Regions from separate parts of the Homo sapiens genome. Here region 2 is linked to region 1. A link means that fine-mapping ties the variant in region 1 to the expression of a gene that starts in the linked region. Tissue or cell type: cerebellar hemisphere. Region 1 holds a variant in brackets; the other region holds the start of a gene. All regions are shown on one strand. Distances are from middle to middle.

Region 1 (8,103 bases):
TTTCCATAAGCAAATGCGGCTCTGCTCATTCACCAGATTCATAGTCAGTGCCTGAGTGCCAGACGCTTTCACACTAATCTCAAGACAAGCCTGTGCAGTAGGTATTGTTCCCATTTCACAGATGAGGAGACTGAGGCTTAGAGAAATCTGAGTTACTTCTCCAGGAGGGCTGGCTAGACACTGGCACAGCTGCAATTTGACCTCTCATTGTCTCACTCCGAGTCCGTGCAGTTAGTTCCACTCTGCAGGGCTGGATGCTCACTTCTTGGTTAGAGAGGCTTTGGGGAGGGCGTGGTTGTTCCCTTTCTCACCCTGAGAACTACTACACATCCACCTCCACTTCTGTGTCTCTTCCAGAATGTCTGTAAACCTGTGGAGGAGACACAGCGCCCGCCCACACTGCAGGAGATCAAGCAGAAGATCGACAGCTACAACACGCGAGAGAAGAACTGCCTGGGCATGAAACTGGTAAGCGCCCGTCCACCCTCAACCTGGCCCCTGCTCCACCACCCGCTTCGGGTTTGGCGCCTCTGCCCTCACTCTGAATTCTGTGGCTACTCCCTGGCAGGTCCCCTCCCTTTCCTCCGGCCTCCAGAGGCCTCCGGGGTCTGGAAGGCTGATAGCCAGAGCCCTCAGTGGCCTCCATGTGCTTTAGGGAAATAGATCTGACTCTCATTTTTTGCTTGTGATTTTGGGAAGCTCTTTTAACTCCTCCTCTGAGCTTCAGTGTAAACTAAGTGATTAAACGGTACGTAATGACCAAGGGCCCAGTATTGCTTGGCCTCCAGGGAGCCAGGACAATGGGACTTAGTTGCTCCCCTTCCTACCCCTTCGATTGTGAGAGAGGGACATACTCTCTCAGAGAGGGGAGGGCACCCAACTTAGCACCCAGTTGGGAAAGGCTGTCTTCAATAGGGAGGGGAGAAGGTAGAAAAACACTGCCCCCTGCTGGTGGCTGGCATCAGCTGGCTCTTTGGGGTTCAGCCAGATGGAGCACCAGAAAATCCAGTCACAAATGCACCTAGGTTTAAGTCTTAAAGGCTGTTTCTTAGTAAAGAGATACAGGAGGAAATCTAGTGGGCTGGTTCTCCAAGGCCCTCATTATAGAGCCTTCCTGCTTCCTGCCTGGTTCAGAGGTACAAACTAGAGTGGCTACCCCACACCCTGCCTCTTACAATGGGCACTCACCAAAGGCAACTGGTTACAGGAGGTTTAGGGAGCTGGCCTGAGCCTCCTGGGAGGGAAATCCACTGCAGCCCCACAGGTCCTCTTTGGTAGCTGGATCCTGAGGGTCTTCTCCCAGCCCACTATGGGGAAAGGGATCTCTGCTCCTTCCTCCAGCTCTCCCACGTCAGCAGAGGCAGGAAAGAACTCAAGGAGACAGGTGGGTGCTGCTGGGGCAATGGCCCCGAGTGGCAGATATGATCATGCAAGGCGGACGGCCCTGACCCCCTGTGACATGCCCCCGCTGGCAGAGTGAAGACGGCACCTACACGGGTTTCATCAAAGTGCATCTGAAACTCCGGCGGCCTGTGACGGTGCCTGCTGGGATCCGGCCCCAGTCCATCTATGATGCCATCAAGGAGGTGAACCTGGCGGCTACCACGGACAAGCGGACATCCTTCTACCTGCCCCTAGATGCCATCAAGCAGCTGCACATCAGCAGCACCACCACCGTCAGTGAGGTCATCCAGGGGCTGCTCAAGAAGTTCATGGTTGTGGACAATCCCCAGAAGTTTGCACTTTTTAAGCGGATACACAAGGACGGACAAGGTAGGAGAAAGAGTGAACCCAACCAGACCGTTCCCTTCCTACCTGTGTCCAAGCCCACCCACTAAAACTCCTGCCGGCCTTGGGTGGGAGCTGTGGGCTTCTCCTGAGCACCAGGGGTCCAGCTGCCCATGTGGTGTTCAGATCTGTGGAATCCGGGCAGGGAGGCAAGAGCAGAGTCCCTGACTCTGCATGTGACTTCAGGAAAACCACACCCTAGGCTCCCATTTCCTGATCTGTGCAATGGGAGGAATCTGCCCCACCATTCCTAATCTTTCAGGAGATGATGTGAATGGAATCATGCTTTAAACTCTGAGCAGACACCCAAGATAAAAGGTTATTGCCCTGTTCATTACTGTCATGTTCATTTCATTAAAAGGCCCGTGTCTACTTCCAGTTGTACGTACCCCACCTCTGCATTTCCAATCCTTTCCCGCAAGCCTGGGCCCCGCCCTTCTTTTCTGGGAAGAGCTCCCAGCACCCTCTCTTGGTTTGCAGTGCTCTTCCAGAAACTCTCCATTGCTGACCGCCCCCTCTACCTGCGCCTGCTTGCTGGGCCTGACACGGAGGTCCTCAGCTTTGTGCTAAAGGAGAATGAAACTGGAGAGGTAGAGGTAGGTCTGGACCCATTGTGCAAACCCAGGCCTTAGGGCACCCTGGGTGGGTGCAGGTGGGTGTTGTCCTAACTACCTCACATAGGTGGGAGCCACGCAGCACGGGCAGGAAGGTGACTGTTGAGAGAGTGAGCAGGGGTGGGTGATGGGCCTGGGGGTCAGTGTTTCAGCCAGGACTCTGAACACCCTGGGGTAGCACATTAGGGCCTGTGTGTGGCAAGGCCTGTGGAAAGAAAGGATTTCATGTGCTTTATTTCTGAAAACTCAGGGAGGAGGGGGACCAAGAAACTCCCTGTGCTCAGGCACAGGCTGTTTTTGCTTCAAAATGGCCCGAGGGCTACCAAGCTCCATCTCTGGGCTCCACTGGGTATAGACGTTTTTGAGCCATTTGTCCTCCCTTTTCTTGACCTCCATCCCCCAAGGGGAGCTAACCAGTGTGTAGTCTTGTGGCATAAACTGGAGTAAAACCAGGCCGGTGCCACCCATGGCCTGAGAATGACCAACAGGGGAAGGTCTCAGTGTTTGTCACACTGTGTTCAGTGGAGGCCTAGAGTTTTAAGGAGTTTTGGGAGTCACTGCGGAGATTTAGGGATCAAGGCAGCTGGGACTCTGTCCCTTCTCCCCATTTCAGCAAGGGCCGCTCTGCTCCCATCTGCTTTCTTTATTGGCATCTGTGCAGAATATGTTTGGAAAAAGTACTCCATGGACAGTAGCTGAATGCTGCTGGCCCTGTGGAAAGCTCAGGCACTTTGAAGTGTGGAGACCTGGGCTCTAGTTCCAGTTCTGCTGCAATGAGCTCTGTGATTGTGATTACGCCACCTTCCCTGTGTGGACTTGAGGTTTCTCACTTATCCATAGCGAGGACCAAACCAGATAAACCTTAGTACTCTATTGTGCTCAAAGAGCTTAGGAGTCTCAATTGTTGGCCGCACAGGGCTTGTGCTCTTGGGTCAGCCTGATGGAAGTCCAAATTGCCTTCTGCCATCAGAGGCCAAGTCCTTTAGGGGTAGGCCTGGGCCAGTCAGGCTCTCATTATCTGCTCTGCCAGTCATGGGAGGTAGATACCCCAATTTCCCAGCAGATAACAGGCTGAGAAGGGTGGAAAGCTGTGCTCGAGGTCACACTGCTGGGAGAGGTGGAGTCAGGCCCAACCCCGGTCTCCTGAGTCCACGTTCCACTCCTCCACCTGCTTTCTGAGGGTCTGCATGTTGGGAGGCTGGGTGGTTCCAGCATCACTGTCAAGATCTCGGCTGCTACACAGAAACTTAAGATTATTGAGTTTCAAAATAAAAACATGGTTCATAGACTGGCAACTCTTGGTCATGAGATGCCAGCATTTGGAATTTT[G/A]TTGCTGCTATGACAGGCATGCAAAGCCCAGGCTTCGCTGATTCAGTCTGTTCAGTAGCAAACTGTGTGTGAATCACGGATGTGAACTGGGAAGGGGAAGGCAGCAGGGTCTCTCAGGTCGTGTCAACTTCTAACCTGTCTCCTATTCTGTTTCTTCCCACAAATCTCCCTCTCGCCTCACAGTGGGATGCCTTCTCCATCCCTGAACTTCAGAACTTCCTAACAATCCTGGAAAAAGAGGAGCAGGACAAAATCCAACAAGTGCAAAAGAAGTATGACAAGTTTAGGCAGAAACTGGAGGAGGCCTTAAGAGAATCCCAGGGCAAACCTGGGTAACCGGTCCTGCTTCCTCTCCTCCTGGTGCATTCAGATTTATTTGTATTATTAATTATTATTTTGCAACAGACACTTTTTCTCAGGACATCTCTGGCAGGTGCATTTGTGCCTGCCCAGCAGTTCCAGCTGTGGCAAAAGTCTCTTCCATGGACAAGTGTTTGCACGAGGGTTCAGCTGTGCCCGCCCCCAGGCTGTGCCCCACCACAGATTCTGCCAAGGATCAGAACTCATGTGAAACAAACAGCTGACGTCCTCTCTCGATCTGCAAGCCTTTCACCAACCAAATAGTTGCCTCTCTCGTCACCAAACTGGAACCTCACACCAGCCGGCAAAGGAAGGAAGAAAGGTTTTAGAGCTGTGTGTTCTTTCTCTGGCATTGATTCCTCTTTGAGTTCTCTTACTTGCCACGTACAGGACCATTATTTATGAGTGAAAAGTTGTAGCACATTCCTTTTGCAGGTCTGAGCTAAGCCCCTGAAAGCAGGGTAATGCTCATAAAAGGACTGTTCCCGCGGCCCCAAGGTGCCTGTTGTTCACACTTAAGGGAAGTTTATAAAGCTACTGGCCCCAGATGCTCAGGGTAAGGAGCACCAAAGCTGAGGCTGGCTCAGAGATCTCCAGAGAAGCTGCAGCCTGCCCTGGCCCTGGCTCTGGCCCTGGCCCACATTGCACATGGAAACCCAAAGGCATATATCTGCGTATGTGTGGTACTTAGTCACATCTTTGTCAACAAACTGTTCGTTTTTAAGTTACAAATTTGAATTTAATGTTGTCATCATCGTCATGTGTTTCCCCAAAGGGAAGCCAGTCATTGACCATTTAAAAAGTCTCCTGCTAAGTATGGAAATCAGACAGTAAGAGAAAGCCAAAAAGCAATGCAGAGAAAGGTGTCCAAGCTGTCTTCAGCCTTCCCCAGCTAAAGAGCAGAGGAGGGCCTGGGCTACTTGGGTTCCCCATCGGCCTCCAGCACTGCCTCCCTCCTCCCACTGCGACTCTGGGATCTCCAGGTGCTGCCCAAGGAGTTGCCTTGATTACAGAGAGGGGAGCCTCCAATTCGGCCAACTTGGAGTCCTTTCTGTTTTGAAGCATGGGCCAGACCCGGCACTGCGCTCGGAGAGCCGGTGGGCCTGGCCTCCCCGTCGACCTCAGTGCCTTTTTGTTTTCAGAGAGAAATAGGAGTAGGGCGAGTTTGCCTGAAGCTCTGCTGCTGGCTTCTCCTGCCAGGAAGTGAACAATGGCGGCGGTGTGGGAGACAAGGCCAGGAGAGCCCGCGTTCAGTATGGGTTGAGGGTCACAGACCTCCCTCCCATCTGGGTGCCTGAGTTTTGACTCCAATCAGTGATACCAGACCACATTGACAGGGAGGATCAAATTCCTGACTTACATTTGCACTGGCTTCTTGTTTAGGCTGAATCCTAAAATAAATTAGTCAAAAAATTCCAACAAGTAGCCAGGACTGCAGAGACACTCCAGTGCAGAGGGAGAAGGACTTGTAATTTTCAAAGCAGGGCTGGTTTTCCAACCCAGCCTCTGAGAAACCATTTCTTTGCTATCCTCTGCCTTCCCAAGTCCCTCTTGGGTCGGTTCAAGCCCAAGCTTGTTCGTGTAGCTTCAGAAGTTCCCTCTCTGACCCAGGCTGAGTCCATACTGCCCCTGATCCCAGAAGGAATGCTGACCCCTCGTCGTATGAACTGTGCATAGTCTCCAGAGCTTCAAAGGCAACACAAGCTCGCAACTCTAAGATTTTTTTAAACCACAAAAACCCTGGTTAGCCATCTCATGCTCAGCCTTATCACTTCCCTCCCTTTAGAAACTCTCTCCCTGCTGTATATTAAAGGGAGCAGGTGGAGAGTCATTTTCCTTCGTCCTGCATGTCTCTAACATTAATAGAAGGCATGGCTCCTGCTGCAACCGCTGTGAATGCTGCTGAGAACCTCCCTCTATGGGGATGGCTATTTTATTTTTGAGAAGGAAAAAAAAAGTCATGTATATATACACATAAAGGCATATAGCTATATATAAAGAGATAAGGGTGTTTATGAAATGAGAAAATTATTGGACAATTCAGACTTTACTAAAGCACAGTTAGACCCAAGGCCTATGCTGAGGTCTAAACCTCTGAAAAAAGTATAGTATCGAGTACCCGTTCCCTCCCAGAGGTGGGAGTAACTGCTGGTAGTGCCTTCTTTGGTTGTGTTGCTCAGTGTGTAAGTGTTTGTTTCCAGGATATTTTCTTTTTAAATGTCTTTCTTATATGGGTTTTAAAAAAAAGTAATAAAAGCCTGTTGCAAAAATGACTCATGTTAGAAACGTCTCCCTTGAACTTCACCATCTTACGGACACTGGGAGCGGGGGAGAGAGGGTGAGAATGGACATGATCACATGCTTCCTGGTGGAGTCAGATTTTCTTTTGCCAGTGAGCAGAGAAATGAAGGCTACTGTTCAAATAATTTGGGAAAAATTGTCCAAATGCGTAGGCGGGAGGGCGCTGCCTGGGTGACCAGCTGTTCCATGTCTCCGCAGTGCAAGAGAGTCAAGGAGACTGATTGCAGGCAGAGATGCTGATGTGTGGGAAAGAGAAGGGCCTTCTGGAGCTAAGGGTGATTTGACACCAGGACAGGCTACTGAGCTGAGCCATGATTCTTCTACTTCTGGAATTATTTAAAAATAAGGTAGAAAGGAATAGATCTTTAAAAGTTTAAGATCACTTCACCTGGAGGAAGGGGGCTAGATCAAATGACCAAAACAAACAGTCCTTTCACTTGAGTTCTCTGACTTTCATCAAAGGAACATCTCAGTAATCATGGAAATAACCACATTAAATTATTAAAAAGAAATTCTTGCTGCCTTCCAGTATTGATCACATAGAATGCAATACATGGGGCCCAAAGAATGAATGAATGTCCAACAAGCATCCTTAAAACTGCCCAAGAATGGGGCACATCTGTAACATTTTTGTTCATCTAAACCCCCAAGAAATGTATCTTTCAATGATTTTGCCAAAGTCCAAAAATGAAGCACTTTCTGCTTTTCATTGAATCTCATATGGTTACAGCATAGGGTTAATAAATTCAAAGTTGTACGTTTGACATTGATACAGATTATTTGACTTAGCACATAGGAAAAAGAACCTGTTACACAGTCTGGCTCTACTCTGCCTTTGAATATGTCCCTATGCTGTTCACAGGGGGAGAGGGAAGATGACTCAATGCAAATGTGTCACCGTTACTGGAAAAACCACTCAATGCACAGGTCTGGACAGCACTGTGTCATGGCAGAATTGTGGGTCAAACCACAATTAAGGGTAGATGTTCATTTTAGACCCAGCCCTACCACTTACTGGCTTTGTGTCTTCAGCAGAGATCAACAAGGCGGGACATGACCTTTCTTAGCCTCCACTCCCTTCAAGATCGTGCAAAACAAATCAAGTTTGTGAAAGAACTTTGCACAGTGCTATATTTTACTTGTATTCACATAAGGAACCATAGTTCATTACTACTATACAGATCATAATCCCTCAGATCAGACTCTGGCAGGCCAAAGGCTTTAACAGGATCCTGTTTAGGCTCAATTTCTGGAAATCCCTTTCCTAGTTTCATATGCTCATGCCGGTAGAGATAGGATTAGTGAAATTAAGGAGTTTACTCATGAGTAAAAAGGTCTATTCTGGGCCTGATAACAGACGGTAGGAGGCGCCACACACACATTTTCAAACCCATTCCTTTTTTCCTTTTCAAGCCTCAAACGGGCAATTTGTGGATATTGTGGATATTTTTAAGCCTTTCTTATCTCAGTTTGAGAAAAACTGAGAAGAGAAAGAAACAAGTAAACTGAAGTGCAACTGTCTCTTAATGGTAAAACCCAAAAACTCAGGGAATTTAGCCCAGTTCTCCCTCCTATTATACAAGGAGAGATCCAGTCAGTGAAATGATTCCATAAACTGAGCAGGGACCAGCGCAGTGGTTCTGCACTTTTCTGGCATCAAGTGATCCCTTTGGGAATTTGATGAAAGCATGGTCCATCTCTCAGGAAAATG
Region 2 (8,103 bases), 26 kb after region 1:
TTGAGTAGCCTATAACATGATCTGTCTTGTCCTAGTTTCCTAAATTCAGCTTATTGATTTACAGTATAGCACATGGTGGTTCATAAAATACTTTCACAACACTTATTTAAGCCTTACAACAGGGCCAGAGGGGCCCAGAGATCTTGTGTGGAACCAGCCAAGTGAGAAACATAAAACACATAGGGGAAAAAATTCCATTTTTCAACCACAAAAACACAGGAAATGGGTAAGTTTATTACATCAGTTGGCTTTTGCTAAGTAGGTTTCAGCCAATAGCCAGAATATAGGAGAATCCTCTTACCTGCTCCCCCTACCAGTTTCTCGAGCACCAGAGGCCATGTTGTAAAGGTTGGCAGAAGATCAGGATAGGACCACAGCGTGTACACTGTACAAAAAGAGATCCAGAAAACACTACTACCAAAAAGCCAATCTTCTAGAGAAATGGAAAAACCTAACACTATGGTCACTTTAATTAGAATACAGGAAAGAAACTCAACTCAAAGCTAAAGAGAAGGTTGTAAGGGGATGCCCAGAGAGGTTTCATTTTTGAGGAAGGAAAAAACCTAAGAAACTGAGTGTCACTTGAGATTTGGAGGCATCCGGATTGCAGCAGCAGAAAATGGTCACAGTGGACAAAAAAGTGAGGGCAGAGAACCAATGAAGCTTTTATTTACGGCTTCAGAAGCAAGTAGCCTAAGAACAGGAAGCCAGCTGTATAAAATTTGGAAACTTTCCCATGTTTATCATTTTTATCCCCTCTGTTTCCATAGTGATTAGCAGCAAAAACCCCTAGGTCAAAAAGCATTGTGGTTGTCTTCAGGTACAGCAAGGAAGTGAGATCAGGGGCAGGAGTGGCCTAAGGATATTGCATTGCACTATTGCAGACAACCCTGGAGGATGAAAAGCCCCAAGTTACAAAGTAGGTGTCAGCAGCTATGGAAAAGAGAAAAGGAGACTGAGTCCCTGAGATTTGTGACAGAGAAGGCAAAGAATCCTAGAGAGCCACTCATAGCCTAAAAAATCCCTGTGAGACCTATGGTTAAAGTACACCATGAAAACAGCTGGATATGTAGCTTATCAATCCAGCTTTATTCCTATCACAGTATATCTTTTCAGTATTTTAGGAAAATCCTGCTACAGATAGTTTTAAGAAACATTTTTTAGGCTGGGCACCCTGCTCATGCCTGTAATCCCAACACTTCGGGAGACTGAGGCAGGAAAATCACTTGAGCTCAAGAGTTCAAGACCAGCCCGAGCAACATAGTGAGACCTTGTCTCTACCAAAAATTTTAAACGTAGCCAGACATGGTGGCATATGCCTGTAGTCCCAGCTACACAGGAGGCTGAGGTGGGAGGATCCCTTAAGCACAGGAGGTTGAGGTTACAGTTAGCTACGATCACACCACTGCACTTCAGCCTGGGTGACAGAGTAAGACCTTGTCTCTAAAAAATATATATATTTTTGGCCAGGCGCGGTGGCTCACGTCTGTAATTCCAGCACTTTGGGAGGCCGAGGCGGGCGGATCATGAGGTCAGGAGATCAAGATCATCCTGGCTAACATGGTGAAATCCCGTCTCTACTAAAAAATGCAAAAAATTAGCAAGGTGTGGTGGCGGGTGCCTGTAGTTCCTGCTACTCGGGAGGCTGAGGCAAGAGAATGGTGTGAACCCAGGAGGCGGAGCTTGCAGTGAGCTGAGATTGCGCCACTGCACTCCAGCCTGGGCAACAGAGCAAGACTCTGTCTCATGAAGACATGCCCTGAAATTCCATCCTTTTCAAGACCTCTGCTCTATTCCTAGTCAACCCACTGTAAACTTCTCAGCCACTGTTCCTTCATCTCAGAACTTCCCTTTGCAACCACCCTTACTTACTATGTCAGCCCTTTTTTTAATCCCTCCTATAGTGGTTTTGCATAAGAGAAAACCTTTTGCATCCTAGAATTGAAAGACCCAATTCTAGGAACACCAGGTCCATAAAGATCCTTGGGGATGGTATTGGGAGATTTCGTGCTTGCTTATTTTATGGGAGACAATGGAAGAAACAGAGAGAAGCAGATGTTAGGCAAGAACTACCTAATGGTAATGGCCATCTTCGTCCTGTTGTCATACCTGTTGGATACAGATTTTTCTCCAGTTCAAAGAGGATGGGGTTACCACCACTCACGTACACAGTCACTGCATCCCCTTTGTGAGCATACAACTTCACAATGTTGAGCTCCTCCTTTCCAGGTACTAACTCAGAGACTTGATCAGTTCCAAGGGTGGGGAAAGCAGTTGTCACATCAGCTCGAAGCTTTCTCCTGTGGAAAGCACACCAGCACTGTGAATGCTGCCTGGACAGACTTTTAATAAATATCAAGAACGAACTCAAAAGTGCTCACTATAAAATCACAAGGGCCAAAGAAAGATTGCCTGGTTTATGATGTCCTAGTCTCACACACACTCTTCTGAAACATCCTAAACTCTTTTTCATCCATTGTCATCTATTTTCACTCATTCCTGGGGTATGCCTTCCCATTTTATGGGTGGGAAAACAGGCCCAGTGAACAATCCAAGTTAGCCTGACACAGGAAACAGCCCTGCCTTCCTGACTTCATGCCTAGCCCTTGGGCCCACTCCTTTCTCATACATGCTTCGCAAATATGCCAGTTTATGATTAAATAACTATGCCATGAGACCTATAGACAACTATAAAGCACTGGTTACAAAATTCCAAACACAATCTCCATTTGTGACCCTGTCTGAACAGATACAGTTCTTCTTACCACATGTGCCTTATTCCCTCCCACCTCAGTTTCCAGCTGTCTCTCCTGCCAGAATTAATCACTAGTCATTTTTTTCTCTTATACTTTTAATTCTTGGTATCCCATCCGATCTCTCCCAAGGGGCATTAAGCTCTTTGGAGGGCAAGAATTCTGTATTCCTTCACTTCTGCATTCTCCACAACACCTTAAATAGTCTGCAGTCAGTAAACTCTGACTTAACTACGTTTTCTTTTAAACTCACTAGACTATCCAAAAGAGAGCCAGGTCCCCCTCCATCCTCACCTCAAAATGTGTCTAACCCACCCTTGCCTCCTGGGGTCCCTTCCCTGGCATACCCCTCGGCCTCCACCCGAGGATGTCGGCCAAGAATAGCGAGGGCTATGGGCCAGCGGGGCCCAAGAGGTGTCTGGTTGTTCCGTGGCAGAGCAGGCCCCTTTCCTCCCTCACCTGTCCGACCCCTTGATGGCCGTGTTGGACTTGACCCGAAAGGCCTTGGCAAACATGTCTGCTGGGGTGGCCTGGGGAAGAGAGCACAGAAGCCAGGGAATGTCAAGAAAGCGAGGGCGCAGCAGCTGCCAGGCCCTCAGCCGTGGGGGCAGCCATGCTGGGGCCCGGCCGCGAAAAGGGCCCGGCTGGAAACCAGGGCCGCGCAGCTTCGTGGCCGTTGCCGCTGGGGAGGCCGCGGCCGCCCCCAGTGGCGGTACCTGGAACTAAAGCAGGGCAGGGAGGGGCAGGGCCCAGGGAACGCCCCTCCCCCCCACCTTCCCATCCCCTCGCGGGCCTGGCTCTGCGCCTGCGCGAGCGGCTCGGGTTCCCCGTCCGTAGCGACTCGGCCACGCCAATAGCTGTTCTGTTTATTTCCTTCCACCCCATCAACCTTAGGAACTGCTTTGAGTAGAAGCTCTCTGCAAGCTCCCATTCCATTCGGTTCGGTTCAATTCCGCAAAAATAATTGAACTGATAAACAGTTCAGGCTTCGGCCGGGCGCGGTGGCCCAAGCCTGTTATCCCAGACTTTGGGAGGCCGAGGCGGGCGGACCGCTTAAGCCCAGAAGTTCGAGACCAGCCTGGGCAACATGGCGAAACCCCATCTCCATAAAAAATACAAAATAAAAAAAAAAAAAAAAAAAAAAAAAAAGAAAGAAAGAAAGAAAGAAAAAGAATTGGGAGGCCGAGGTGGGCGGATCACCTGAGGTCGGGAGTTCGAGACCAGCCTGATCAACATGGAGAAACCCTGTCTGTACTAAAAATACAAAATTAGCCGGGCATGGTGGAGCATGCCTGTAATCCCAGCTACTCGGGAGGCTGAGGCAGGAGAATTGCTTGAACCCGGGAGGCAGAGGTTGTGGTGAGCCGAGATTGCACAATTGCACTCCAGCCTGGGCAACAAGAGTGAAAGTCCGTCTCAAAAAAAAAAAAAAAAGAAAAGAAAAAAGAAAAATTCAGCCGGGTGTGGTGGCGCATGCCTGGGGAGGCTAAGGCGGTAGGATCGCTTGAGCCCAGGAGGCAGAGGTTGCCGTGAGCCGAGATTGTGCCACTGCACCCCACCTTGGACAACAGAGTAAGACTCCGTATCAAAAAAATCAAACAAACAAACAAAAAAACCTCGAGGGCTTTTTGAATATTTTTCTTTATTTTATTTTATTTTGTTTACTTGGAGACAGGGTCTCGCTGTGTCACCCAGGCTGGAGTGCAGTGGCGCAATCTCAGCTCAATGCAGCCTCCACCTCCCGGGCTCAAGCGATCCATCCGCTTCAGCCTCCCGAGTAGCTGGGACTACAGGCGGGCACCACCACACCAGGCTAATTTTTGTATTTTTTGTAGAGACAGGATCTCACCTTGTTGCCCAGGCTGGTCTCAAACTCCTGAGGTCAAGAGATCTGTCCGCCTCGGCCTCCCAAAGTGGTGGGATTACAGGACAGGTGTGAACCACCAAGTCGGGCCTAAATGTTTTTCTTAAAGGCATTCTATGATTAAGGTCTATTCATTGTACTATAAGCTAGAAGCCTCAGCTAGAATTTTCTGTAAGATTTTTCTCATCCCGGATTTTTAGTTTACTTGGGTGGTAATAACAGTAATAGAGAATTCACTGTTGTCCCAGATTTGTCCCAAAGTCACACAGGCAGGGAAGAGAAATTAGGTTTTCCTCAAAGGGACAGCTGTGTTCCCTGGAGACAAGGATTTAAACACCCGGAATCCTGGCTCTTCGTAAATTAAGTCTTGCATATTAAAATTACATTAAGCAATTTAAGTAATAAAAGTAAATTATGTTTTGCATATTAAAACTTCCAAGTGTCCATTCACCAATAAAAAATCCCAATTGATTCAGTGACGCAGTTGCACAAAGGAGAATTCCACACTGGCTTTCTAAACATTAGGCCTTCTACAATGTTTGCCCACCACCTATAGTGGCCTAGGGACCAGCCCCAACTCCTCCTAAACCTGTGACCCACTAGGCCTTTATTCTGAAGTATCCCAGCCACCAGGCCAATGTCAAAGGAGCCCAGAGGAGGACAGTGCCTACAACAGACCCCTGTACCCACCCTTCACCTCCCACTTAGCCACTCTTCGGATGTGCAATACATTTGGGGTCTTTTGCAGCACAGCTGCTGAGGAAGCCTCTTTCTTAGGGAACAGAGGAAAGCTATTCAGAGAATACTAAACATTTTAAGCTAGGGGAACTTTTGTATACCAGATGTCCTTGGATAAGAAAACATCAATTGTAAACCTAAAAATTAATTAGTGGTTGACAAGTAGGAGCCAAGACCCCAGAGGATTCTGCACCATGGCATCCAGCCTCCTCTTTGGTAGAGCAAGAGCCCCCTTCCCCAGTGGGCACAATCCCACCTTCTCTGCTTGCATCACAGACCTGCCTGCTCCCTGCTGGCTGACCCTATTGCAGGGAAAGCAGCCTGAACCTTAAGTTCAGCAAGCCCTGATTCCTGTGCCTTCCATCAGCAGCTCCAGAGCCACCCCACAGGGCTCCCAGACTGTTCCCCACTGGTGGGTCTGAGCTGCCAAGTTGCAGCAAGGCACAGGGCAACTATACCAAGAAAGCTGCCATTTACTGAGAAAAAGGATCGTTTTCACTAATTATACTTGATAGCAACTGGCTGTAAATTGGATTCTTTACAAGAGTACCAAGTATTTGGAAGCAAGGGTAGGCCAGATGAGAGATTCCATTTTCCTTAGACTTCCTTTTTCTTCTCTTCCCAGTGAGTCCTAATGGAGAAAATTTAGTTTAATTCATTGAAACTTAACTGGAAGCTTTCTAATCAGGCTCTGTGATTTTTAAGACAAATTCGACACAAGCACTCTGCCCTCAAGGAACTCACAGTCTAACAAGTGGTATTTATGTCCTCTTGAAGTCTATAGGACCACAGGGTACCCAAACTGATAATTCATCCATGGCTACCTACTAGTTACTCCTTCACTAGCCTTCTCTTCCCTTCTACTGAAGCCCACACGCAAATCCCCTGAAAATATGGATCATTGGCATCTACATTTCAAATGTGACCAATGGTTTGAGAATTCTTTGATGGATCTGGATGGCTTTTCAGATGAGCAAGTGTGTTCACAGCCTCAGAAAGAGTCATGTTATCTTCACCCATATACAGATGATTCAGGGATACGGGATTTTTACTTTTTCAAATGTGTCCATGCCCATTGCCTCATGTTACCTTCATACCAATGCTGTAAGCAGTTATTGTTAACCCCTTTGCCAGGTGAGAAACCTGGAGTACAGAGATGTTAACTAACTTGTCCAGGCTCACACAGTTACCTTGCATGATTTAGTCTGTGGATGATGCTTTCCAACCACTAGGAAAAAATGGATGCAATAAATGATGTCAGGACAAATGCCTATCCATTTAGGAGGAAAGTTTACCTCATATTTTCATAAAAAGAAATTCCAGATAAAGATCTAAATGTAAAACAAAACAAAACAAAAACTACCACAAAACTAAGCATGCTTTTACCATATAATCCAGCAATCACTCTCCTTGGAATTTATATAAATGAGTTGAAAATGTATATCCACACAAAAACCTACACATAGTCATTTATAGTAGCTTTACCCAGAATTGACAAGACATGGAAGCAAACAAGATGTTCTTTGGTAGGTGAATGGATAAATAAACTGTGGTACATGCAGATGATGAAATATTCTTCACCACTAACAAGAAATGAGCTATCAAGCCATTAAAAGACATGCAGGAGCCAGGCGCAGTGGCTCACGCCTGTAATCCCAGCACTTTGGGAGGCCAAGGTGGGCAGATCACTTGAGGTCAGGAGTTCGAGACCAGCCTAGCCAACGTGGTGAAACCCCATCTCTACTAAAAAATACAAAAATCAGCCACACGTGGTGGTGGGCACCTGTAATCCCAGCTACTTGGGAGGGTGAGGCACGAGAATTGCTTGAACCCAGAGGTGGAGGTTGCAGTGAGCTGAGATTGTGCCACTGCACTCTAGCCTGGGCGATAGAGTGAGACTCAGTCTGAAAGAAAGGAGAGAGAAGAGAGAAGTGAGAGAGAACATGAAGGAATCTTAAATGTGTATTATTATATTAAGTGAAAGAAGCCAATCTGAAAAAGATCATACTGATAGTATGTAAGTGATGGTTCCAACTATATAACATTCTGGAAAAGGCAAAACTTTGGAGATAATAAAGAGATCTGTGGGGGAGGGAAAGATGAACAGGTAGAGCACATGTTGGGAGAAAAGCTGAGTGTTGGGAGAGCAGCTGAGGCAGGGCTTCCATGTCTGCTAGACTTGCTGGCTCCTTGCTTCTAGCACACCCATTATTTCAAGCAGCCATTCACTTGATACACTGTTTCCTGTCAACCCCCACATCTTCACCACCTGTTTGTTTGTTTGAGCACCAATAAGCAGCCATGGACGCCCAGAAATCGGGGCCTTGGCAGCCTCCACACTCACGATGGTCCCCTGGTCCCACTTTCTCTCTCAAACTGTCTTTTTCTCATTCTTTTGACTCTGCTGGACTTCGTCGCCCCCACGACCTGGTGTTGGGTCTGATCACCCCAACAACATTCTGGAAAAGGCAAAACTATGGAGATAGTAAAGAGATCCGTGGGGGAGGGAAAGATGAACAGGTAGAGCACAGAGGATTTTAGGGCAGTGAAATGCTTCTGTATGACACTACAGTAGTGGGTACATGTCATTATACATTTGTCCAGACCCACAGAATGTACGACACCTAATGAACCATAATGTAAACTATGAACTTGCAGTGATAATGATATGTCAATATAGGCTCATTGATTATAATACGCAAATAAATAAGCCTTGATTCATAACTCACAGCCTATTCACATACAAAC

The links. PIP is the estimated chance that this variant, and not a neighbour inherited with it, causes the effect.
Region 2: EIF2D starts here. The variant in region 1 is fine-mapped to the expression of EIF2D in cerebellar hemisphere (GTEx, PIP 0.92).

What each region holds. Positions count from the first base shown.
Region 1 is chr1:206,582,912-206,591,014 of GRCh38, forward strand. RASSF5 (Ras association domain family member 5) reads left to right here. Exons shown (of 6, transcript NM_182663.4): 3 at 358-468; 4 at 1,476-1,773; 5 at 2,269-2,384; 6 at 3,915-6,537. The coding sequence ends at 4,067. It also overlaps a transcript of EIF2D not described here. Among named protein-coding and RNA genes, the nearest start is that of EIF2D, 26 kb to the right of the region's middle. RefSeq lists an enhancer at 5,188-5,688. The variant G/A (reference allele first, on the strand shown) is at 3,732.
Region 2 is chr1:206,609,075-206,617,177 of GRCh38, forward strand. EIF2D (eukaryotic translation initiation factor 2D) reads right to left here and starts at 3,391. Exons shown (of 15, transcript NM_006893.3): 1 at 3,213-3,391; 2 at 2,110-2,300; 3 at 302-385. The coding sequence starts at 3,268. RefSeq lists enhancers at 474-573, 614-673, 3,084-3,153 and a silencer at 3,444-3,653.